Homo sapiens: one gene and its partner. The protein of the gene in region 1 interacts with the protein of each later gene in a pairwise test. Each region holds a gene or a part of one and is shown on either strand. Other genes may lie near its edges.

The links. The genes of interacting proteins can lie anywhere in the genome.
Region 2: the proteins of RC3H1 (region 1) and CEP135 interact in binary tests that used the Homo sapiens proteins (3 or more experiments, as listed by UniProt).

Annotation. Positions count from the first base shown.
Region 1 is NC_000001.11:173,942,284-173,949,469, reverse strand, and holds part of RC3H1 (roquin-1), read left to right. Parts: intron 1-1,887; coding exon 1,888-2,101; intron 2,102-2,633; coding exon 2,634-2,724; intron 2,725-2,861; coding exon 2,862-2,994; intron 2,995-5,854; coding exon 5,855-6,028; intron 6,029-7,186. UniProt on the Homo sapiens protein: Post-transcriptional repressor of mRNAs containing a conserved stem loop motif, called constitutive decay element (CDE), which is often located in the 3'-UTR, as in HMGXB3, ICOS, IER3, NFKBID, NFKBIZ, PPP1R10, TNF, TNFRSF4 and in many more mRNAs.
Region 2 is NC_000004.12:56,014,945-56,021,944, reverse strand, and holds part of CEP135 (centrosomal protein of 135 kDa), read right to left. Parts: intron 4,298-7,000; coding exon 4,088-4,297; intron 2,593-4,087; coding exon 2,390-2,592; intron 1,270-2,389; coding exon 1,165-1,269; intron 1-1,164. UniProt on the Homo sapiens protein: Centrosomal microtubule-binding protein involved in centriole biogenesis. Acts as a scaffolding protein during early centriole biogenesis.

The DNA of each region.
Region 1 (7,186 bases):
TTGAACCTGGGAGGCAGAGGTTGCAGTGAACCGAGATTGCGCCACTGCACTCCAGCCTAGACAACAGAGTGAGACTCCATCTCAGAAAAAAAAAAAAAGAAATGGTATTGCTGAAAGGTATGCCTTCACTATTATTCTTAACCCATTTGTCCTTATTAACTCTAACAGAGGTTTCCTAGGTTATTATATAGATTTTCATAGATAAATACTTTTCCAGGTGGTTAAGAAAAGACCAATATTTGCAATAAAAAAAGATTTGGATGCTGATAACCACTGTAAATGAGTGAAGTGATATCTAATAGCATAAATACAATTATATGCCAGCCCCACCCCCCCCCCCAAAAAAATAGAGAGTTTTAGAGGAAGAAAAAGCAAAATAAAATTTTTTTTTTTGCAGTAGAATTACAGAAGCATTGTTTTTAGGCTGTAGTAAGGCTCTTATTGGAACGAAATGAGGGGAAATTAGGCAGGAATCTTTGCCTTGTACTTGGCTTTCAAAAGGAAAGGGTTATTATATTAAAGTAACACGAGTATTAGCAAAATAAAACTCATTTTCTTAAATCAGTAAAGAATTAAAAAGTTTGGGCCAGGCATGGTGACTCAAACCTGTAACCCCAGCACTTTGGGAGGCCAAGGTGGGAGGATTGTTTGAGCCCAGGAGTTCAAGACCAGCCTGGGCAACATAGCAAGACCCCATCTCTTCAAAAATTTTTTTAATTAGCCAGGTGTGGTGGTGCACGCCGGTCCCAGCTACTTGAGAAGCTGAGGCAGGAGGATCGCTTGAGCCCAGGAGGTTGAGGCTCACACATCACTGCAGTCCAACCTGGTGACAGCAGAACCCTGTCTCAAAAACAAACAAACAAAAAGTTGCAATCCAATCTAGAGGTAATTGAAAACCTCCCAAATAGGTGAAAGAAGTCTAACCTAGTATTTCTCAAATGTTAATGTGCATACAAACTATATATTTGTGTGTCTATATATATGTGTAACATTATATAGGGATAAATATATATTTGTATGCATATATATATACTAGGTCATTATATATATATATATATTTCTTCAAGATTGAATTGGCTTTTATTAGTGATTGATTAATCAGGAAGCATTTCATCTGTGAAATAGAAAGATGCTCTAATGAGCTAAACAGAGAAAAGGAACAAAACTCAGATTAGTTGTTTCAAAGTTATTTTCCTTATAGGACTAAAGCAGAAGGGACTTACCAGTTCAAATTGAGTGGTCCTCTTATGATTGATTGCTGTGAATCTCCTGTTTTTTGGAAAACTGGCCCATTTTCAAGTTCAGTTTGATTTTGTGGCATCTAGCATAAGTGATTACATTCTGCTTTGATCTGGTGTCTTGGGGCTTAGTGCGGGAGCTTAGTCCAAAACAGTGGCCTCCCATAAATTTTAAAAATATATTTCTTAGGCCAGGTGCAGTGGCTTATACCTGTAATCCCAGCACTTTGGGAGGCTGAGCTTGAGGCAAGCTAAGCCCAGGAGTTTGAGACCAGCCTGGTCAACATAGGGAGACCTCATCTCTATAAATAATCAAAAAAAATTAGCTGGGTGTGCTGGTACATGCCTGTAGTCCCAGCTACCTAGGAGGCTGAGGTGGGAGGATCACTGGAGCCCAGGAGGTTGAGGATGCAGTGAGCCATGAGAGTGCCCCTACGTTCCAGCCTGGGCCACGGTGTGAGACCCTGTCGCCCCTCACCTCAGAGGTTTAAAAACCAGTGTTACATAAAAACAACCAAAGGTAACTAATGATTTTAGTCTTACCAGTAAGAGTGCTGTACTCTTCTTTAACCTTATTACAGATCTAGAAAAAATTAGGTTACAGAGCGATCTGAGTGTGGGGTAATTTCTCATTTTGCTTTTTTATCAGAATGTGGAGAGTAAAGGAATGAGGGACCAGCGATTAGATCTTCAGAGAAGAGCAGCAGAAACCAGTGATGATGACCTCATCCCATTTGGAGACCGACCAACAGTGTCTCGGTTTGGTGCCATCTCACGAACTTCCAAAACTATATATCAGGGTGCTGGTCCAATGCAGGCTATGGCACCTCAGGGAGCTCCTACAAAATCTATTAACATTTCAGGTAAGAATCTCAGAGGTAAGCTGACCTAAAGGGTTCATAATCTTGACTTTCAGCATTACCCCTGCTCTCCATTTACTATCAGTGTTTTTAGTAATCTTGCAAGGCAGTAATTTTCAAACTTTCCATGGAATCATCCCTGTAAGAAAGGTAATATAACCCAGAGAATTTTAGGTATATAAACTGAAATTAAATGTCTATATGTGAAGCTTTCCTAATGTTTCTTCCCCACTCCACCCCCACCCCAAATAGCTTAATTGTTATTTGGGGGAATAACATTCTCATTATACAGTAATTTGGAAGAAAAACTACAAAGACTGAAAGTTCATTGGGGAAGAAACAAACATATATCAGCACCCAGCATCATGCTGCCTGATATTTAGAAAAACAAAGTTAAAGAATTTTAAAAATCTGGACATTTAGGGTAGATACCAGATACCTGTGTATGCAATACGCTGATGTCTTTCAGATTATGAATACCTTAAAAGAAGAATCAAATCTGTGAATTATACCATAATAAATCATTCTCTTACAGATTATAGTCCATATGGAACCCACGGTGGCTGGGGAGCTTCTCCATATTCACCTCATCAAAACATACCTTCTCAGGGACACTTCAGTGAGAGGTATGAGTCATTCTTTTTACTTGAACAAACATGTAGAAACCTTTAAAATTAGGCAACTTCTTTTTGTTTTTCTGGTCAGTAATATGTTAACAAAATGAAATGTTAAAATTTGATTCACACTTTCTTTCTAACCAAAGGGAGAGAATATCTATGTCAGAAGTGGCCAGTCATGGAAAACCCCTTCCATCTGCTGAGAGAGAACAGCTACGACTAGAATTGCAGCAATTGAACCATCAGATTAGCCAGCAGACCCAGCTACGTGGACTAGAGGTACCAGCCTAGAGAGCCATTTTATTCCAATTTTTGAAGGGTTCTCAGAGATTTTAAATAGGAACTTTTGAGGCACTGTGAACAAAAAACTTTAAGGTCTATTTCTTAGGAGTTAGTATAGGTTTCTATTCTTCAAAGAATTCAATACTGGATTTAGCTCTGGGACAACAGAAAACGTAAAATTTCTGCTACCTAAAAATAGAAAACAGATTACGTAAAATTTCCCAACAGGAGCTTATATTCCCTGATGGCACATTTAAGGTTTTTTTTGTTTGTTTGTTTGTTTGTTTGTTTTGGTTTTCTTTTTTTGAGACAGTATTGCTCTGTTGCCCAGGCTGGAGTGAGGTGGCGTGATCTCAACTCACTGCAACCTCCACCTCCTGGGTTCATGCAATTCTCCTGCCTCAGCCTCCTGAGTGGTTGGGGTTATAGATGTACACCACCATACTCAGCGAATTTTTTGTATTTTTAGTAGAGATAGGGTTTCACCCCTGTAATCCCAGCACTTTGGGAGGCCGAGGCAAGTGGATCACAAGATCAGGAGTTTGAGAACAGTCTGGCCAACATAGTGAAACCCCGTGTCTACTAAAAATACAAAAAATTAGCCGGGCATGGTGGTGTGCACCTGTAATCCCAGCTAATCAGGAGGCTGAGGCAGGAGAATCGTGTGAACCCAGGAAGCAGAGGTTGCAGTGAGCCAAGATTGCGCCATTGCACTCCAGCCCAGGCTACAGTGTGAGACTCCGTCTCAAAAAAAAAAACAGAACTTTGACTTAAAAAGTAAAACATAGTTCCGGTGTAATAAGAATAATAACACTTTTCATTTACGTAGTTCTGTACCATTTAAAAATCACTACCACTTATCTTATTTGACCCTTAGAATATCCCTGATATTTTAGGCAGGTGGTATTGTCCTCCTTTTTTGATTGAAGTATATGAGTTTCTCAGAAGTTGAAACACGAACCCAAGTCTTCATACTCCAGATTCAGTGTTCTTTCCATCATGCTGCCTGACACTTAGAAAAACAAAACTAAAGAATTTTTAAAATCTGGCTGGACGTGGTGGTTCATGCTTGTAATCCCAGCACTTTGGGAGGCCAGAGCAGATGGATTGCTTGAGCTCAGGAGTTTGAGACCAGCCTGGGCAACATGGCAAAATCCCTTCACTACAAAAAGTGCAAAAATTGGCCAGGCATGGTAGTGCACGCCTGTAGTCTCAGCTACTCAGGAGGCTGAAGGCAGGAGGATCACCTGAGCCCAGGGAGGTTGAGGCTGCAGTGAGCCCTGATGGTGCCACTGCACTCCAGCCTGAGTGACAGAGTGAGACTCTGTCTCAAAAAAAAAAAAAAAAGGAATTTTTAAAATCTTTTAAGTGCCACATAAGGAAGACTAGGTTTTGTTTATACATCATCCTTTACGTTGGAACATATTCTTTGAATATGGAAAACTGAAGACATTCTAATGATAAATATATTGTCCTTTCTGGAGGAAAAAATGGTACTGTTAGAACATTAGTCTGTCTTTCTACCATAATCTTTAATAATAAGTAAGCCATCACTTTAGGGGGGAAAAAAAGTTATAAGACAGACTTTCTTAGTAGACTTTCTTTTTAGGAAGACCAGTAGGAGATTGTTTTTGGAACATATAGCTGGCTTGTGCCCCTATGTACGCAATTAGATTTAGGAATTTTAAAAATCTATGTAATACTTAGATTTTGTCTGCTTTCGCCATTGCTTATTTACATTGATTCAGAACGTCTTGCCGATTCCTGTCATAGAAACAGAATGCCATGTTTGCTTATGGCAATCTTTCGTTCATTAACTTTTTAAAGATTCAGACCTTCAACCCAATAAGGCATTACTCCATATCTTCAAATGCATGGTTTTTTGTTTGTTTGTTTGTTTGTTTTATATACTTTAAGTTCTAGGGTACATGTGCACAACGTGCAGGTTTGTTACATGTGGTATACATGTGCCATGTTGGTGTGCTGCACCCATTAACTCGTCATTTACATTAGGTATATCTCCTAATGCTATCCCTCCGCTTTCCCCCCACCACATGCATGATTTTTTGTTTTAAAGTTTCCAGGAGCATTTTCTGTCCAAAAAGACTATCAGTATTATTTAGAAACTTGCCACATATTTAACTCAGTACAGTTAAAAGTCCTTGCCATTACTGAGGTTTCATTGAAATAAGTTATAGGATTTACTTCAGAGAAAATTACCATTAAAAACAGAGGGGGAAAGATGCACATCTGTAGTTGACTTGTTTTTCTTCCATTTCCTTTTTTTTTTTTTTTTTTGAGAGACAAAGTCTCACTCTGTTGCCCAGGCTGGAGTGCATGGAGTGCAGTGGCATGATCATAGCAGCTCGCTGTAATCTTAAACTCCTGGGCTCAAGTGATCCTCCCTAGTAGCTAGGACTACGGGCCCACACCACCATCCCAGGCTAATTTTTTGGTTTTTTTATTTTTTATTTTTTGTAGAGGCGAGGTCTTGATATATTGCCCAGGTGGATCTCAAATTCCTGGCCTCAAGTGATCCTCCCACCTCAGCTTCCCAAAGTGCTAGAATTAAAGGCACAAGCCACCATGCGTAGCCAACTTCTCTTTCAAATCAGAAAATACAAGGAGCAATTTATACATAAGATGAAATTACTGTTTACTAAATTTAAATGTCCCTATTTTGTTATTTTTTTGTTTGAATGGTACTCAAAGAGAACAGCACCTTACAGTTGCATTATTTTGTTGCAAATGGCTGGGTGATAAGCTACTCAAGGCTGTGGTCTGGAATTGAGCCTGGTTATTCTGTGCATGGTGTGAAGTGTGTTGAGTTTTCTGTGTGCTTGGCTTTATGCACTAGGCTGTTAGTAACAGGCTGGTGTTGCAGAGGGAGGCAAACACCCTGGCAGGCCAGTCACAGCCCCCACCACCGCCACCTCCAAAATGGCCTGGGATGATCTCAAGTGAGCAGTTGAGCTTGGAACTGCACCAGGTGGAAAGGGAAATCGGGAAGAGAACACGGGAACTGAGTATGGTGAGTGTTATGGTGGGGAAAGAGAGGGAAGGTGAAATGAAATCTTTCATGTGGCTCTAGAATTATCTAGAGGCACAGAATCATCACTTCAAGGCACTCTGATGAGTGGTTAATATTTAAAATAATTCTCATGCAGGTGGGCTACCTTCCGATTTTATCATTCCCTTCCTCATTCTCTTGGTTTGGGTGTGTTCTTTGTCTTATAATTCTTCGTTAACTTTTAGGGAAAACAAGGTTTTAATGCTTCTGTAATTTAAGAACTTAATGGAAGTCTTAAATTTCTGTTTAGCATACTGATTAGGGAAGCAAATAGGATGGTGTTTACTATTTTGCAATGACAACATGTTATATAAAGATGTATTCACCAAATAACATTCTAGTTTCATAGCCTTTATAATGATGACCTATTTTTGCTATGAGTGATATGCAATCTGCACATTGTTTCCTGTATCCATTATGTATGCTTAGGAAAAACTATATCCATTAATATGCTTAGGATTTGCTTCATAGTGCACAGACATTCATTTTAGTAAATTTTGAATCTTAGGGGCTTCCTCAGGTTGCATGATATGATTTTTTTTGTTGCTTAGTTTTCATAATCTTTCTTTTTTTTTTTGAGGCGGAGTCTCTGTCGCCCAGGCTGGAGTGCAGTGGTGCGATCTCGGCTCATTGCAAGCTCTGCCTCCCGGGTTCACGCCATTCTCCTACCTCAGCCTCCCAAGTAGCTGGGACTAGGCGCCTGCCACCTCGCCTGGCTAATTTTTTGTATTTTTAGTAGAGACGGGGTTTCACCGTGTTAGCCAGGATGGTCTCGATCTCCTGACCTCGTGATCCGCCCGCCTCAGCCTCCCAAAGTGCTGGGATTACAGGTGTGAGCCACCACGCCCAGCCAGTTTTCATAATCTTTCTAAGCAAATAAATTGAGCATGCAGGTTTTTTTTGCTTTCAGTAAGTATGTTAAAGATATTTATTGTACTTTGGTTTTCTTTTCTTTTTTTTTTTTTTTTTTTTTTGAGACTGAGTCTCTGTCACCCAGGGTGGAGGGCAGTGGCCCAACCTCAGCTCACTGCAACCTCCGCCTCCCATGTTCCAGTGATTCTCCTGCCTCAGTCTCCCGAGTAGCTGGGATTACAGGTGCCTGCCACCACACCAGGGTAG
Region 2 (7,000 bases), on another chromosome or scaffold:
AATCCTCCCACTTCGGCTTCCTGAGTAGCTGGGACTACAGGCACCCATCACCATGCCCCAGCTAATTTTCAAAAATTTTTTTGTAGAGATGGTGTTTTGCCATGTTGCTCACGCTGATTTCAAACTCGTGGGCTCAAGTAAATCCACCTGCCTTGGCCTCCCAAAGTGCTGGGATTGCAGGCATGAGCCACCAAGCCAGGCCTTTATGAAATCGTAAATATTGATTTCATAGCAAATTGTCACTATACTTCAAATAGCACATCACTACAAAGTTTTGACGTAAATAGGTAAGAATAACTCAAAAACTGATCTAACAAGCAATTTGGCCACTAATTGAGAATGAAATCTCAGGAATGCAGATGTCTATGGTATTAATATAGTAGGAAAGAGTAATGGAAGACAAGTAACTTGGCAACTGATTTTCAAGTTAGACTTCGATTTAAAGCAGGTCTCAATCCGGGTTAGTAACACCTGGGGATTAAATTTTTCAACGTAAAGCAAATGAACCAAAATATGAGTGAATATGAAAATTACCAAGCTGTAGGGAATACATTGAAGAGGTTAAGGGTACAGGTTTTAGAATTAAAATCTGTTTGGTTTCCTACCACTTACTATTTATGTGATCTCAGTTTCCTATAAGGTAGGCATAATAATAGATTGTTGGTGGGATTCATCAGACACTTATATAGTGTCTGGTCCACATTTGTTAACTGCTGTTACTATCTTCAAATCATTACCTTTATTATGATTTGTATGTGGAACATCCTACTTGAACCATACATTTTGGAGCTCTTATAGGGATTGTTGTTGCTTCTCTATACTCTTTGAAATACTTTTGGATTCTAATTTTGTCCTGCGGAATGCTATAGGAAATATTTATCCAATACTTCCTATTTTACCTTATTTTTCAGATTATTAAACAATTTTATTCAATAAATATTTATATAGCATCCGCTATGTAATACTTGCTATTTTAGTTACTGTAGAGCTATTATCTTCCCCAACACTTGTTGCCTTTTTTAAAAGGAAGAATTACCAAAGAAATGTACTTTATGTATTAGCTTTTTAAAAAGTTTGTTATTTGTAAAGCCATATTAAATACTTTCTGAAGTACAATAGAGAACACATAAAAACATTGTCAAATGTAAAAAAAATTTGTCTTACCGTTCGTATCTTTCAGTTGAGATCTGCCTTTTCAGAGCATCATAATCTGTTTGTAACTGTGCCACTTTAGCTCGAAGCATGGTGTTTTCCCGGCTTTGACTAGTTCTTAAAAACAAATTAAAAAATCAAGAAATAAACGTTCCGTTTTGTAGAGTCAGGTGCTGTGGGTTTTTTAAATTAATAAAGAGAAGATCAAGACCTTTCAACAAGAATTCTCTAAACTTCTAGAGCTTTTATCACATTTTCTTTTTCATTCATTTAGTTTATTTATGAAACATGTACTGAACATCTATTATGTGCTAAGCACTAAAGCAATGCTAGGGATACAAATTTGAACGAGACATAAATGGTAACACCAAGATGTAAAGTGTCTTCATTGGCTCTTTCTTGACTCTTGCCTTGGAAAGAGAAATATTAATATTTTTAATACCTTTCAAAAGCTCATTCTTCCATGTGTACTCTACTCTGGGTTTCTTTCCCTCTTCCTACAAATATGTCTAAATCCTTCTATTCTAAAAATATGACATAATCAGTCTCTCCCAAAGTAATCAATACATGTATGTGGGTCAAATCTCATAGCCTTTTTAGAGTCCTTTTTCCTAATCTACAGCATAAGACACAGCCACCTCTTCTTCTCCCGAGAACACTTTCTCCTTCACTGACTCCTCTGTCCATTCCTCAACTGTAGGCGCTTTCCTAACGTTTTCTCTTCTCATTACTCCCACGGTACAACCTCTGTAGTGAAGATATACAGGTCTGCACCTCCCAACACGATGTTTCTCCCGAGTCAGTCTCCTAAATTTCCAAAAGCAGCAGATGTATAAGCCAAATATTTTGGTTTTGGGACAGCGTCTCGCTCTGTCGCCCAGGATGGAGTGCAGTGGTGCAATCTCGGCTCACTGCAACCTCCACCTCCTGGGTTCAAGTGATTCTCACGCTTCAGCCTCCTGAGTAGCTGGGACTATAGGTGTGTGCCACCACGCCTGGCTTTTTTTTTTTGTATTTTTAGTATAGACGGGGTTTCGCCATCTTGCCCAGGCTAGTCTCAAACTCCTGAGCTCAGGCAATCTACCCGCCTTGGCCTCCCAAAGTGCTGGGATTACAGGTGTGAGCCACTGCACCTGGCCTATCTTTCATACTCTTAACCTTTCCTCCACTTCAAAAAAATTAAAAAACTATCCTTCACAAGCAATTGTCTTTGCATAAGTTGACTTAAGACACTTACAATTTGCTTTCAGAAAGGGTTAACTTCTCCTTAAGTAGCTGGATTTCTGTATCCTTCTCGTGGGAGGTTAAGTGAGAATGAAATTCTTTATCTCTGTTTGTAGCCAACAATGATTCGAGGTTTTTAACTGTATGTCTCTCATTTGAAAGTTGTTTTTTCAGTAGGTCTGACTCTGACTTTACATTTTCTAATTCCACCACAACCTACGTGAAAAACAAAGTAAGATTACTTCAGTACAATTTTAAACTTACTCTGAAAAAATTATTTATCTGACAATATAGCTCTGTGGAACTATTCACCTATCACTTGTTTCATTTTGGGTATGGGTTAAAGATTATGAACTGTTTCTTTAAGTATAAGAAAGACACTTTATTTTCAAAATAATCTTTGCTATTTTTACTATGGGCTTATTTGGCTATAGGATCTACTCAAATCCTCAAATAATTTTTAGTCATGGTACCTTATCAAGAGACGGTCATTAAGATAAAACCACAAGGGCAATGAGACCCTTCTGGTTGAATATGCTTACTCTGACTACATAATCAAGCCAGTATTATAGTTTCTCAGTACCTGAAAATAAAGATACTACTAGATGAGTGAAAATTGAAAACATCCATGTTTGAAAACAAACACTAGGTTATTTAAAGTAATGCCTCCATCTGGGAAAGGTAAATTCTAGCTAAATAGACTTGTTTAATTAAGATTTAAACACCTTGAGATTTTTATCGGGAAAAATATTCTACTTCGGAAGCACTGAACTGTTCAATCCTTCATTCAAGTCTTACTTTTTTTTTTTGAGACAAGGTCTCACTCTGTTGCCCAAGCTGGAGTGCAGTGGCACAATCTCTGCTTACTGCGGCCTCGACATCCTGGGCTCAAGTGAACCTTCCCTGCCTCAGCCTCCCGAGTAGCTGGGACTATAGGCACATGCCACATGCCTGACTAATTCTTTGTATTTTTTGTAGAGACGGGGTTTTGCCATGCTATCCAGGCTGGTTTCAAACTCCTGAGCTCAAGCAATCTGCCTGACTCGACTTCCCAAAGTGTTGGGATTACGGGTGTAAGCTATCGTACCTGGCCTCAAGTCTTACTTTTAAACAGAGAAAGAATGTATTAGGATATGCTGATTTATAATCAGAAAATTCATAATCTCCTAGATAGCCATCTATTCCAAAACATTACCCACTTTCATCACTACGTTTGCCTGAGAAATCTTGCAAAGAATCAAGCAGTCAAATCTGGTTGTCAAAATCCTGTAGTCAAAAGTAACTATTGTAGGCTGGGTGCAGTAGCTCATGCCTGTATCCCAGAACTTTGGGAGGCCAAGGCAGGCAGATCACGTGAGGTTGGGAGTTTGAGACCAGCCCGGCCAACATGGTGAAACCCCATCTCTACTAAAAATACAAAAATTAGCCAGGTGTGTTAGCAGATGCCTGCAATCCCAGTTACTCAGGATGCTGAGGCATCCTGAGATGCCTGAGGGAGAATTGGTTGAACCCAGGAGGCGGAAGTTGTGGTGAGTTGAGATCGCACCACTGAACTCCACCAGCCTAAGCGACAGAGCAAAACTCCATCACAAAAAAAAAAGTAACTACTCTAAAAGGAAACAAGTATATGCATGGTGTGGTGAATACTAAAGTAAAATAATTAGAGTAGGGCTCAATAAAACAATGTGCCAAGACAATTTATCTTTCTTACCCTCTCAAACTCAAGGTTTTTCGAATTCAATTGCTGGGTCATAATATCTTTGCCTGAATCAAGTTTAATGCAAAGTTCTCTAAGAGATGACAAGTCATTTAATACTGTTGCTTTCTCATCTTCTTGATGTCTCAGCTCTTCTTCTAATCGAGACATGGCTTTTGCCATTGATGAGATCTGAGATTCATAAGCATGATGGGCATTTATGTGCTGAAAAAAGAAAAAGAAACAAGTAAAAAGTTAAAATAACCCAATAATTTTAAGAACTTGAATTTGTACAGCCAACAATCTCACTTTAGAAAAATATGACAGCCAATTTTTGCTTATTTTAAAATACTCTCAGGAAGCTGCCTACTATTTAAAGATGACCTATTTAATGCTTAACAAAATGAATTGTGTATAATTATTAATCATGGTAACTGAGTATCTCATGTATATATTTATATATTTGGAAATGTAAAAAAGAAAGTTATTGTATCAGGGTGTTGTGAATATGAGGGATTTTTGAGGTTGCATTAAATTTTTCCTTTAAAAATTATCTTTGTTATAATAATGTCATTTCAAGAAAAAGTAATATATATACATATCACTCCTCAACTGTCTTCAGTTAAATTCTAAATTCCAAAAATGGGGTTTACTTCAAAACTATATACCTGGATAATTTAAATTTAACTTAAATAAATAGTAAACAACTTTAATATTTTAATAACTGAAATAATGAAAAAAATTTCAAATAATGATAAATTTTTTTTTCTAGAAGAATCCACAGTTGAAATTTCTCACAATTTGAATTATGAGTAATAAATACAAACTGATATAAACTCTACTTCTAGGTTTTGGGGAGAATTCTGCATTGAAAAATAAAATTATTGCAAGAGGCTATTAAAACGGCTGGGTGGCTCACGTCTGCAACCCCAACACTCTGGGAGGCTGAGGTGGGAGGATCACTTGAGCCCAGGAGTCTGAGACCAGTCCGGGAAACATAGTGAGAACCTGTCTCTACCAAAAAATACAAAAATTAGCTGTGTGGTGGCACATGCCTATAGTCCTTGCTACTTGGGAGGCTGAGGCGGGAGATCACCTGAGCCCACGAGTTCAAGGCTGCAGTGAACTGTGGTTAAGCCATTCCACTCCAGCCTGGCCGATGGTGCAAGACCCTGACTCTTAAAAAAAAAACTCCACAAATCCACATTGAAAATCTAATATTGTGCTGTGAAGATTTAATCAATTTCAAAAATTGCAGAAAAGTATTTAGATTTTTTAGTGCATTAATAAAAGCTCCCCTAAACAAATATAATACTTTAGTATTGTATTGTGAAATTGGCTTATACTTTAGTAACAGCCAATTTCATATACCACATACGAACATGAACAATAATAAAGAACAAAATAATTGAAGATTAGTTGAGAACAGTTGCTGAAAAACTCTTTTGAAGGTTGAAAGGCACTCCTTTAATTAGTTATTATACCCTTCTTAACAGAAAAACTTTTAGAGATAGTGTATTAGTTCCCTAGGGCTGCCATAACCAACTACCACAAATTAGGTGTTTTAAAAAAACAAAAATTCATCCTTTCACAGTTCTGGAGGCTGGAAGTCCAAAATGTGGGTGTTAGCAGGGCTGGTTCTTCCAGAGCTTCTATGGGAGAATCTGTCCCATGCCTCTCTCCTAGCTTCTGGTGGATGCTGCCAGTGCTTGGTGTTCACTCACTTGCAGACATATCACTCCAATCTCTGCCTCCATCTTCACACAGCCTTCTCTGTACGTACTGTATCTAAATTTCCCTCATCTTTGAAGGACACCCATCATTCACTAGGTTAGGGCCTGCCTTAATCCAGCACAACCTCATCTTAACTTGTTCACATTTGCAAAAACCCTGTTTCCAAATAAGGTCATGTTGACAGATACTGGGGATTAGGATTTCAACGTATCTTTCTGGTGGACACAATTCTCCTACCCTCTGATCCCCCAAAATTCATGTCCTTCCCATATACAAAACACATTCACTCCATCCTAACATTCTAGCATCAACTCTAAACCCAAAATCTCATCTAAGCATCATCTGAATCACATATGGGTGAGACTCTGAATATGGACCACACTGGGACAAAATTCTCCTCCATCTACAGACCTATGACACTGGAAAACAAGTAAACTGCTTCCAAAATAAAATGGTGGGATAGGCATACCATAGAAGTCCCACTGTAAAAGGGAGAAAATAAAAGGAATAAAGGAGTTACTAGTCCAAAGTAAGTCTGCAACCAAGCAGGCTGAATCCATTAGATTTCAAAACCCAAAAATAATCATTTGTGCCTTCATTCTCTGGTGCTCTGTTCTCTGAGCCAGCCAGGGGGGCCCCACCCTGTGTCCCACAGGGGCAGTGGCCTTGCCCTCTGAAACCAAGCAGACAGACAGTAGCTCCATCATCTGGACCTGTGATGTCTGGGCTTGTGGTGGTAGCCACAGCCCCACCAGCCTCTGAGTTGCCCTTGGTGGCCTTGCTGGTCTCTGAGCTACCCTTAAGAGTCATTCTGTCCTTTTCTTGAAGGTGAACTTGCAGCCAACTAGCTCTGTTGGTCTGTCTTCTGCTAGTAGGATCCCAGAAGTCCAACAACCTTCCTTCTTTTCATCCCATTTCTGTTCCTTTCAGTCAAAGCTGGAAGTGATTCTGCTGAGATGATTGATTGGATTCATGAGTCACATATCTAATCTCTTCACCAAGAGGTTTTCTAGCCATACTCTGGAGCACACTATCTGGATAGGCTAAGAATTTTCCAAAATCATCAAGTCCTGGTTTATTTTTTTTTCCTTTTTTTTGAGACAAGGTCTTACTTTGTCACCCAGGCTGGAGTGCAGTGGCATGATCTCGGCTCACTGCAGCCTTGACCTCCTGGGCTCAGCCCCCCAAGTAGCT